Linked DNA regions of Homo sapiens. The protein of the gene in region 2 interacts with the protein of the main gene of each other region in a biochemical or structural test. Each region holds a gene or a part of one and is shown on either strand. Other genes may lie near its edges. The genes, in order: MYBL2, CCNF and CDC6.

Region 1 (3,655 bases), on a different chromosome or scaffold from region 2:
TCCATATGTTTTACATAATGGAGAACGTGTAGGCAGCGGCCAGCCCACCCTAGGGAAAGGTCTGGGGGAGAGAGGCTCTTACTTTTTCTTCTTTTTAAGACATAGGCACTTCTGCTTCACTTATTTTTATTGAGACAGGGTCTCACTCTGTCACTGGGCTGGAATTCAGTGTGGCATGATCGTAGCTCACTGCAGCCTTGAACTCCTGGACTCAAATGATCGTCCCGCCCCAGCCTCCTAAGTAGCTGTGACTACAGGGGTATGCCACCACGCCCGGCTAACTTTTGTATTTTTTGTAGAGACGGGGTCTCACCATATTGCCCAGGGTGGTTTTGAACTCCTGGGCTCAAGCAATCCTCCCACCACGGCCTCCCAAAGTGTTGGGACTATAGGCATGAGCCACCACACCCGACCTCACCTCTTTTTAAATTTTTTAATGAAATAGGGTTAAGAGCTACTTTCTTCTTTTTTATTTTCAGGAATGCCCTAGTGATTTCAAAAGCTGTAAAAAAAAAAAAAAAAGAGGCCAGGCACAGTGGCTCAAACCTGTAATCCCAGCACTTTGGGAGGCCGAGGTGGGTGGATTGCTTGAGGTCAGGAGTTCAAGACCAGCCTGATCAAACACAGTGAAACCCCATCTCTACTAAAAATACAAATATTAGCTGGGTGCGGTGGCGCATGCCTGTAATCTCAGCTACTCAGGAGGCTGAGGCAGAAGAATTGCTTGAACCCGGGAGGTGAAGGTTGCAATGAGCCGAGATCATGTCACTGCACTCCAGCCTGGGTGACAAAGCAAGACTGTCTCAAAAAAAGAAAAGGAAAAAGAAAGTTAAGATTTCACCAAGAATATTATGTTCAAAATCAGACTATCGCTTTTTCCTTTCAGTAACAAACCTGCATGGATATTTTAAGGAATAAAGTTGATGAAGTTAACAGGCATCAAGATTTTAAGAGATATTAGTTATTTGGAAAAAAAATTCTGAATATATTCTCTATGTCCATTTGTTGTTTTTCTTCTTTTAGGGACAGAGTCTGGCTCTGTTACCCAGACTGGAATGTAGTGGCATAATCACAGCTCACTGCAGCCTCCAACTCCTAGGCTCAAGCAATCCAATTCTCCCACCTCAGCCTCCCAAGTACCTGGAACAACTTGCATATGACACTATGCCTGGCTATTTTGTATTTTTTTGTAGAAACATCTCACTATTTTGCCTAGGCTCATCTGGAACTCCTGGCCTTAAACAATCCTCCCACCTTGGCCTCCCAAAGTGCTGGTATTACGGGCCTGAGCCACTGTGACTGGCCAAGTTGTTTTTTCGTGTGTTGATTTTTTTTTTTTTTGTAATGACAGGGTCTCAGTATGCTACCCAGACTGGTCTTGAACTCCTGGGCTCAAGGGATCCTCCTGCCTCAGCCTTCCAAAGTAACTTGGATTACAGGTGTGCACCACCGTGTCTGGCTTATGTCCATTTTTGCAAATCCCTTTTCAATCCTTGCCTACACACAGGCATAATTAATGGAGAGAAAAATCAGTGTACAGTATCTATTTTTTTTTTTTGAGACGGAGTTTCACTCTGTCACCCAGGCTAGAGTGAAGTGGCGACATCTCAGCTCACTGTAACCTCTGCCCCCCAGGTTCAGGCGATTCTCCTGCCTCAGCCTCCTGAGTAGCTGAGATTACAGACGCCTGCCACCGCGCCCGGCTAATTTTTTTTGTATTTTTAGCAGATACAGGGTTTCACCATCTTGGCCAGGCTGGTCTTGAACTCCTGACCTCGTGATCCACCCGCCTTGGCCTCCCAACGGGCTGGGATTACAGGCGTGAGCCACCGCGCCCGGCCCAGTGTACAATATCTTCTAACGCCGCTGTAGGGGAAAAAAAAAAAACAGTACGAGCTGCTTTGAATTCTGGGTGTTTTTACTCTACAAGGCAATCTTCCAAGTTGCTCCAAAAAATCCTCGTATTTATCCAGTTTAATAGTTACAAAAATGGAAATCGGGCCAGGTGTGGTGGCTCACACCTGTAATCCCAGCACTTTGGGGCCAAGGCAGGCAGATCACCTGAGGTCGGGAGTTCGAGACTAGCCTGACCAACATGGAGAAACCCCGTCTCTACTAAAAATACAAAATTAGCCGGGTGTGATGGTGCATGCCTGTAATCCCAGCTACTCAGGAGGCTGAGGCAGGAGAATCGCTTGAACCTGGGAGGCGGAGGTTGCGGTGAGCCAAGATCAAGCCATTGCACTCTAGCCTGGGCAACAAGAGCGAAACTCCATCTCACAAAAAAAAAAAAAAAAAAAAAAAATGGAAATCAGCCGGGCGCGGTGACTCATACCTGTAATCCCAGCACTTTGGGAGGCCGAGGTGGGTGGATCACAAGGTCAGGAGTTCGAGACCAGCCTGGTCAACATGGTGAAATGATGTCTCTACTAAAAATACAAAAAAATTAGCTGGGTGTGGTGGCATGCGCCTGTAATCCCAGCTACTCGAGAGGATGAGGCAGAAAAACTGCTTGAACCCAGGAGGCGGAGGTTGCAGTGAGCAGAGATCAGAGATTGTGCCACTGCACTCCAGCCTGGGCGACAGACGAGACTCCATCTCAAAAAAAATAAATAAATAAAAACCCACAAAAATTAGCTGGGCATGGTGGCATGTACCTGTAGTCCTAGCTACTCGGGAAACTGAGGCAGGAGAATTGCTTGAACCCAGGAGGCAGAGGTTGCAGTGAGTCAAGATCGTGCCACTGCACTGCAGCCTGGGCAACAGAGGGAGACTCCGTCTCAAAAAAAAAAAAAAAAAGAAAAAAAAGAAATCATAGGATCCACCTCCAGAGATGTCAGGTGCTTGAGGAAAGTTAGTAATCTTTCCCCAACTCCACCCGACAGGACCTGCATCAGGTCACGTTGGTCAGGTAAGTTGCTAGGTCAGACATTTGTAAACTGGAAAAAGCTTACAGGTTTCCAAACAAGGCAAGTCTTGTTTGGAAATGAAACAAATGAAAGAAGGCTTACTGTGCTATCCACATTACCTTCTCCTTGTTCTCCAAAGCTCACCGTTGCTTCCTAGAGTCACTCCTATACTTCCATAGCACATGGGAAACCCTCCTGTCTCGGGCCCTTACACTGCAACTGCCTGTCTCCTCCACATCATCTACAAAGGTCAGCTCCACCTTGGCATCCCAGGGTTTATCACCAAAAGGGCTTAAGAAATGTTTGCCCAGGGACTGACTGAATATACAAATAAATGAAAAAATGTGCAAAGCTGCTGCCTATTAGTCAATAAGAAATACTAATTAAATTTTTTAGGCCAGGCAAGACCCAATTTCAAAAGAAAAAAATTTTCAGAAATAGGAAAGGAGGGACGGTGTCTACAGTCAGCAATACAGAAGGATCTGGAATTCATTCCTGACCCAGTTCATGGGTCCTCCACCACTTCAATATAGAAGGCAAAAATCCAGAAGATACTAATAACAGAATGAAGTTGGCTTTAAAATCAACTGCCCCCAGACAGCTCGTGACAGAAACCATCTTTGCTTCTCCAGCATCCAGCACAAAGGCCTGGCTTCTAACAGAAGGTCAGCAAATATTCTTTCAAGGATGAAATGATGTCTGCATGGACACTCCCTGGTGCTCCAATGCTGTTTGTTTGTTTGTTT
Region 2 (3,655 bases):
AAATATATAATATAATAATATATAATAATCATATATATTAATATATATTTATATATTATATAATATATAATATATAATTATAATATAATATATATAATATAATATATATTATATATAATAGAATATAATATTACATATATTATAGAATATATTATATATTATAGAATATAATATATAATATTATATATGATATATATTATATTATTATAATTATTATATAATTATATGTTATACAATATATAAATACATATTTATATATAATTATTATATAATAATATGATATTATATATAATATTATATATTATATATAATAATATTATATTATATAATATTATATATTATATATAATATTATATTATATAATATTATATATTATATATAATAATATTATATTATATAATATTATATATTATATATAATAATATTATATTATATAATATTATATATTATATATAATAATATTATATTATATAATATTATATATTATATATAATAATATTATATTATATAATATTATATATTATATATAATAATATTATATTATATAATATTATATATTATAAATAGCTGGCAGACTAAATATAATTATGTTATAATATAATAATAGATATTATAAATATATCTAATTATGGATATTATATATATATAATTAAGGGCTGGGTGCGGTGGCTCAAGCCTGTAATCCCAGCACTTTAGGAGGCCGAGGCGGGCAGATCACGAAGTCAGGAGATCCAGACCATCCTGGCTAACATGGTGAAACCCTGTCTCTACTAAAAATACAAAAAATTTAGCTGGGCGTGGTGGTGCAATGCCTGTAGTCCCAGCTACTTGGGAGGCTGAGGCAGGAGAATGGCATGAACCCAGGAGGCGGAGCTTGTGGTGAGCCGAGATTGTGCCACTGCGCTCCAGCCTGGGCAACAGAGCAAGACTCCATCAAAAACAAAACAAAACAAAACAAAACAAAACAAAAACAAAAACATATATATATATATATATATATATATATATATATATATATATATAATTTGCTAATATCATGAGCCCAAAATATCTCATTTAAAAGTGCACTCTTATGACTAGTAGTAAGGTTGAACATTCCAATTTCTAACCACTTGAGTTTATTTATTTATTATTAATTTTTTTTGGCCAGGTGCAGTGGCTCACTCCTGTAATCCCAACACTTTGGGAGGCCGAGGAGGGCAGATTACTTGAGGTCAGGAGTTTTAGACCAGCCTGGCCAACATGGTGAAACCCCACCTCTACTAAAAATACAAAAATTAGCTGGGCGTGGTGGCAGGCACCTATAGTCCCAGCTACTCAGAAGGCTTGAACCCAGGCGTCAGAGGTTGCAGTGAGCTGAGATCGCACCACTGTGCTCTAGCCTGGGCAACAGAGAGAACTCCTGGCTTCAAGTGATCCTCCCGCCTCAGCCTCCCAAAGTGTTGGGATTATAAATGTGAGCCACTGCGCCCGGCCCTATTTCCTCTTTTGTGAGAATTGACTGAGGCCCCTTGAACTTCCACGAGAACTACGTTGTTGCATTTCTTGTAAACAATGTTTTTGTTGAGATAGGGTCTCCCTCTGTAGCCCAGGCTGAAGTGCAATGTTGCGATCACGGCTCTCTGCAGCTTTGACCTCGCAGGCTCAAGTGATCCTCCTGCCTCAGCCTCCTGAGTAGCTGCACTACAAGGCACACGCCACCACATCCAGCTAATTTTTTTTTTTTTTGAGATGGAGTATCGCTCTGTTGCCAGGCTGGAGTGCAGTGGCACAATCTCGGCTCACTGCAACTTCCTCCTCCTGGGTTCAAGCAATTCTCCTGCCTCAGCCTCCCGCGTAGCTGGGACTCTAGGCACATGCCACCAGGCCCAGCTAATTTTTTTGTATTTTTAGTAAAGACGGGGTTTCACCACATTGGCCAGGGTGGTCTCGACCTCTTGACCTCGTGATCCGCCCGCCTCAGCCTCCCAAAGTGCTGGCATTACAGGCATGAGCCACTTGCACCCAGCCCATCCAGCTAATTTTAAAATTTTTTGTCGAGATGGAGTCTCACTATGTTGCCAGAGCTGGTCTTGAACTCCTGGGCTCAAGCGATCCTCCCAACTCAACCTCCTACAGCGCTGGGATTGCAGGCGTGAGCCATCACGTCTGGCCTTCTTGTAAATCTGTAGACTGGCTTTTTGGACGTGAACACCACAATGTGCTATGACACCTCGGGCTGGGCCATTATCAATTTGTAATTTTGTCCCTAGCATTTGAGCGCAGATCACTCTGCCACCCACTTGGTGGGGTGACAAGAACAAGCTTCTATCCATTTGGCAAATAGGAGCTTTCTTTGATTCGTCCTGACAACTTTTTTTTTCCTTCAGACAGAGTCTTGCTCTGTCGCCCAGGCTGGAGTGTAGTGGTACTGCAACCTCTGCCTCCCGGGTTCAAGCGATTCTCCTGCCTCAACTTCCTGAGTATCAGGTGCCTGCCACCACGCCCAGCTAATTTTTGTATTTTTAGTAGCGATGGTTTCACCATGTTGGCCAGGCTGGTCTCGAACTCCTGACCTCAGGTCATCCGCCCACCTTGGCCTCCCAGAGTGCTGGGATTTCAGGCGTGAGCCACCGCACCTGGCCCTAACAACTTATTTATAGCTGTGAGGGGAGAGTCTACCAATGCTTGATTTCCTGCCTGTAGCCCTGGATGACTTGGTGACCAGGTGACATGACAAGCAAGGCGCTAACAGGAAGAGGAAGCAGGAAGGGACTCTCCACGCCCCTCTGCTCTCAAGTAGCCTCAAGTTTTGTTGTCAAGATCAGTTCTACCTATGGGACAACTTTCAAGAATGGCACAAATTTTGACAGCAGCTATAGCTCACAAGCATTTGAAAATTAAGAGGTTGGCTGGCTGAGAGGCAAGAGTGGATAGGCAGAGATGAATAACGCATTTCCCAGCTCTTCTCACAGTGTACCTGTCCTTTAGGACCAGTTCCAGTGCTGAACCGATCTTAGGGTGTCCCTCAATCCTGGCCTCCCATGTGGGAGCCCAGATAGTCCTGCCCCCCAATGTGGGAGCCCAGATAGTCCTGCCCCAAGGCTGGAGGGAGAAAGGCCAGCTCCCCACGTCATCCCAGCCCCGCACCTCACCTGCGCTTCCCAGCAGCCTTTGGCAGCGTAGTCCCTGAGTTTTCGGAAGCTGTGGAGGCATCGCCCAGGATCTGACACCTGTCAATGGGAGATCACCGAGCCTTTGTACAACTGTGTCTTGGGAGGAACTCAGAACCAAGACCCAGAAGGGCCGACACTACGCTAACTTCCCACCTCTTCTCTCTCAAATGGTGGAGTCATTTTTGGGGGTACCAAGAATAGCCGACTGACCAGTGGTTCCCGGAGGCTGAGAGACCGGGAGCAGCAAGAGCCACCTCCCTTTTGTGGACAGAAACGCATCCAAGGACCAGCATCAACTACGCCTTTGTCCAGCATAACTCCCCCCGACCCAGAGCAGGCACCACTCACATCTGTCCTCCTGTCGCTTTCCCAGAGGAGGTAGGAGCTGGTCAGACATCCCTGATGAGCAGCCTCCTCAAACAGGTCATGGGCCTGCTGCTGCTTCTCCTCATCCTAGAATAAATCCCAGCAGAGTTCATTGTTCCCTTATTCTTTTTCAT
Region 3 (3,655 bases), on a different chromosome or scaffold from region 2:
TTGCGACAGACTTTACTGTAGGCTTCATATAACTGGTAGGAAACAAGGGAGAACAAACGCTGCTTAAAAGTCACATTGCTTATAGCCTTTAATCATTTAAGAAACCTGAGTCTGGGTTTGCAAAAACTTATCTGAATACCCTATTTCTTCCTCTTTTCAATAAAATCTTTGAACAGGCTTCTGTAGATATTCCCGAAAACCTATACAGTAATGTAGGAAAGGGGCTTTATATATTTCCTAGAGAGATGCAGAAATGAAGGGGAGGATAGGGAAAGGATTAATGATAAACTCTCAACCACAATCCAAGGGAAATAGGTGCCTTTTATATAGTACCAGTATTAATTCTTACTGTTAAAATCCATTTTAAATTTATTATCAGCTGAAGTATCATAGGCCTTTTGGAAAATACCTGCTCTGCAAAGCAGATTCTGATCTCTACCTCCGTTCCATCTGCTCCATCCCAACTTACCTTCCCCAGAGTGACCTCTTTGATTTTCAACTGCCTGATCAAGAGCATCAAAGAGCAAACCAAGATCTTCTGCTGAAGAGGGAAGGAATCTTGTGCTCCTTCTTGGCTCAAGGTCATCCTGTTACCATCAACTTCTGAGATGACTTGGGATATGTGAATAAGACCAACCCTCTTGGGAATCAGAGGCTCAGAAGGTGATTTACCTATAAAGTAAATAAGCCAAGCTTAATTCGATTTCTAAAATACTGTGTGTGTGTATGTATGATGAGACAGATGATACTAAGTTTGAGCTAAAGGAAATTCAAGTATAGTCACATGGTGGCAAAGCAGAGGTTTTAAATCTCTAACCAGAGGCCAAAGGATGAGAGATAATGCTATTCTCTTAAGGATGTCAAAATAATGTGGGATGACTTGAAAAGTAGGGTTACCCTTTCTCTGGGCCAAATAGTGAGCTGTTTTGTCCTATGGAATGTAATTTAATGTCAGAGGAACAAAACCCACCTCATGAAAGGACCAGAGAACTACTGTATTTTTTTTTGGGACAGGATCTCTGTCACTCAGGCTGGAGTACAGTGGCACTATCATGGCTCACTGCAGCCTTGGCTTCCTGGGTTCAAGTGATCCTCCTGCCTCAGCCTCCTGTGTAGCTAGGATTACAGGTACGTGCCACCATGCCAGGCTAGTTCCTAGTATCTCAGAGGTATAGAATAACAGAACCTTGAAGCAAAGATGGTGACTGTGCTTGGTAATTAAGAAAGGAAAAAAAAGGCCAGGTGCAGTGGCTCACGCCTGTAATCCCAGCACTTTGGGAGATCAAGGCGGGCAGATCACCTGAGGTCAGGAGTTGGAGACCAGCCTGCCCAACACGGCGAAACTCCATCTCTACTAAAAATACAAAAAATTAGCTGGATGTGGTGGCAGGCGCCTGTAATCCCAGCTACTTGGGAGGTTGAGGCAGAAGAATCACTTGAACCCGGGAGGCAGAGGTGCAGTGAGCCAAGATTGTGCCACTGCACTCCAGCCTGGACGACAAGAGTGAAACTCCATATAAAAAAAAAAGAAAGGGAAAAAAAAGTTGGAAAATTACCGAATATTTTGGATCAAATGAGTGGCTAAATGTGGAGAGTGAAGTCGCTGCCATGTCAGCCCTTCAGATGGCTTCCCCAAATGACCTTTGAGGTTTGGTTCACTTGCCCAAGCTGATTAGCAGTAGAGCAACACTTGAGAAAATGTCATTGGATATGCTAGCAGATAGCACCATCTTTTTTTTTTTTTTTTTCTTTTTGGTATTTTTTGTAGAGATGGGGTTTCATCATGTTGCCCAGGCTGGTCTTGAACTCCTTAGCTCAAAGCAATCTGCCCTCCTCGGCCTCCCAAAGCACTGGGATTATGGGCGTAAGCCACCATGCCTGGCCAGATATCATCATCTTAATAAAAGCCAGGGGTTGGGAAACTGCCAATAAGCTTCATAAGACTATATCCTTAGCAAACTACTGTAGGAACAGAAAACCAAATACCACATGTTCTCACTTCTAAGTGGGAGCTAAATGATGAGAACACATAGACACATAGTGGGGACAACACACACTGGGGCCTATAGGAGGGTGGAGGGAGAGGATCAGGAAAAATAACTAATGGCTTGAGCTCAGGAATTCATGACCAGCCTGTGCAACAAGGCGATGGGTTTCCCCCATCGCTACTAAAAATACAAAAAAAACAGCCGGGTGTGGTGGTGTGTGCCTGTGGTCCCAGCTACTCAGGAGGCTGGGGTGGGAGGATGGCTTGAGCCTGGGAGGAGGAGGTTGCATTGAGCCAAGATCACGCCACTGCACTCCAGCCTGGTGACAGAGCGAGACCCTGTCTCAAAAAAAAAAAAAAAAAAAAAAAAAAAAGACTATGGCCTTATCGTTTGGAGATGCATGAATTCCAAGACAAAGAAATGTGTTCTGTAACAACCTTTACCTGAAGTTACTTCCTGAAATCACTTGCAGTTGCCCCACAACAATTTACTTCTATAATATTACATTACCACAAAGGGATGCTGCAGAGGACTAATGGAGAAACCGGAGATCACAGATCAAGTAAAAGAATCTTAAAATTGAAAGGAATTTAGAAGTCTATTTTTACTCCCTATCCACTGGCCGAGTCCTCTCTAGAACAATCTCAACAAGTGGCATCTATCCAGCTTTTGTCTGAATATCTTCAATGCTGGAGAACCCACTATGTTTCAAGGAAGCCCAGTTAGTTCTAGTTATTATAAATTTTCTTCTTATATTTAGTTAAAGTCATTCTCCCTATAGCTTTCTGGAGCCCTTGAAAGCCAATCTCAACCTGGTATGGTGGCTCATGCCTGTAATTCCAAAGCTGTGGGAGGCTGAGGCAGGAGAATCACTTTATCCCAGGAGTTTGAGACCAGCCTGGGCAACATAAGGAGACTCCTCCACCCACTGACTCTACAAAAATTTTAAAATTAGCAGTAGCTGGAGCTGGGGAGGCTGAGGTGAGAGGACTGCTTGGGCCTGGGAGGTTGCAGCTGCAGTGAGCCATGATCGCACCAGCCATAATTGCACCACTGGACTCCAGCCTGGGAGACAAAGCAAGACCTTGTTTTACACAAAAAGAAAAAAAAAAAAGAAAGAAAAAAGCCAATCCCGCACAAACCAGAAGTCAAAAGATAGAACTTACAACCTCTTTACCTTTTTGAATTATGTTTGTGTTAGTGGTGCTCACAGGGGCCAGTGACAAGCCTAAATGTTACTGATGGGGAAAAAGGAGGAGGAAAAGGGGATAATCTGAAAAGTTGAAAAGGAGGAAGAAACCAGTATCTAAGTCTATACATTGGTATATATTGCCTACTATTAGCCTAAGCACTATTTTTGGCTACTTCTGAAACATTTTTAATTATTTTATTTTAGCAAATTGATGAAAAAAAGAAAGAATTTCATGCAGAACTATAATGCCAGAAACAATTTTACTTAAACTCCCAGCCAGTGTAGGAGTGAAAAAGAAACAATCAAATCTTACTATTCTGTTTATAAAGACTAACACTGGATATCAAATACTGTAAGATACGTAGTTCATGGCCATTTTACATTTGCCACAACCAAAACAAGGCTGAGGGAATGGAATATTAATTTTGTCATTTGTGATACCATGCAGCTTACTGTAGCAGTATGATCTTTTTAC

Evidence for each region.
Region 1: the proteins of CCNF (region 2) and MYBL2 form a complex in vitro, tested with the Homo sapiens proteins (one study listed by BioGRID).
Region 3: the proteins of CCNF (region 2) and CDC6 form a complex in vitro, tested with the Homo sapiens proteins (one study listed by BioGRID).

The regions. Positions count from the first base shown.
Region 1 is NC_000020.11:43,670,114-43,673,768, reverse strand, and holds part of MYBL2 (myb-related protein B), read right to left. Parts: intron 1-3,655. UniProt on the Homo sapiens protein: Transcription factor involved in the regulation of cell survival, proliferation, and differentiation. Transactivates the expression of the CLU gene.
Region 2 is NC_000016.10:2,439,306-2,442,960, reverse strand, and holds part of CCNF (cyclin-F), read right to left. Parts: intron 3,609-3,655; coding exon 3,504-3,608; intron 3,213-3,503; coding exon 3,135-3,212; intron 1-3,134. UniProt on the Homo sapiens protein: Substrate recognition component of a SCF (SKP1-CUL1-F-box protein) E3 ubiquitin-protein ligase complex which mediates the ubiquitination and subsequent proteasomal degradation of target proteins.
Region 3 is NC_000017.11:40,297,845-40,301,499, reverse strand, and holds part of CDC6 (cell division control protein 6 homolog), read right to left. Parts: intron 673-3,655; coding exon 470-672; intron 33-469; coding exon 1-32. UniProt on the Homo sapiens protein: Involved in the initiation of DNA replication. Also participates in checkpoint controls that ensure DNA replication is completed before mitosis is initiated.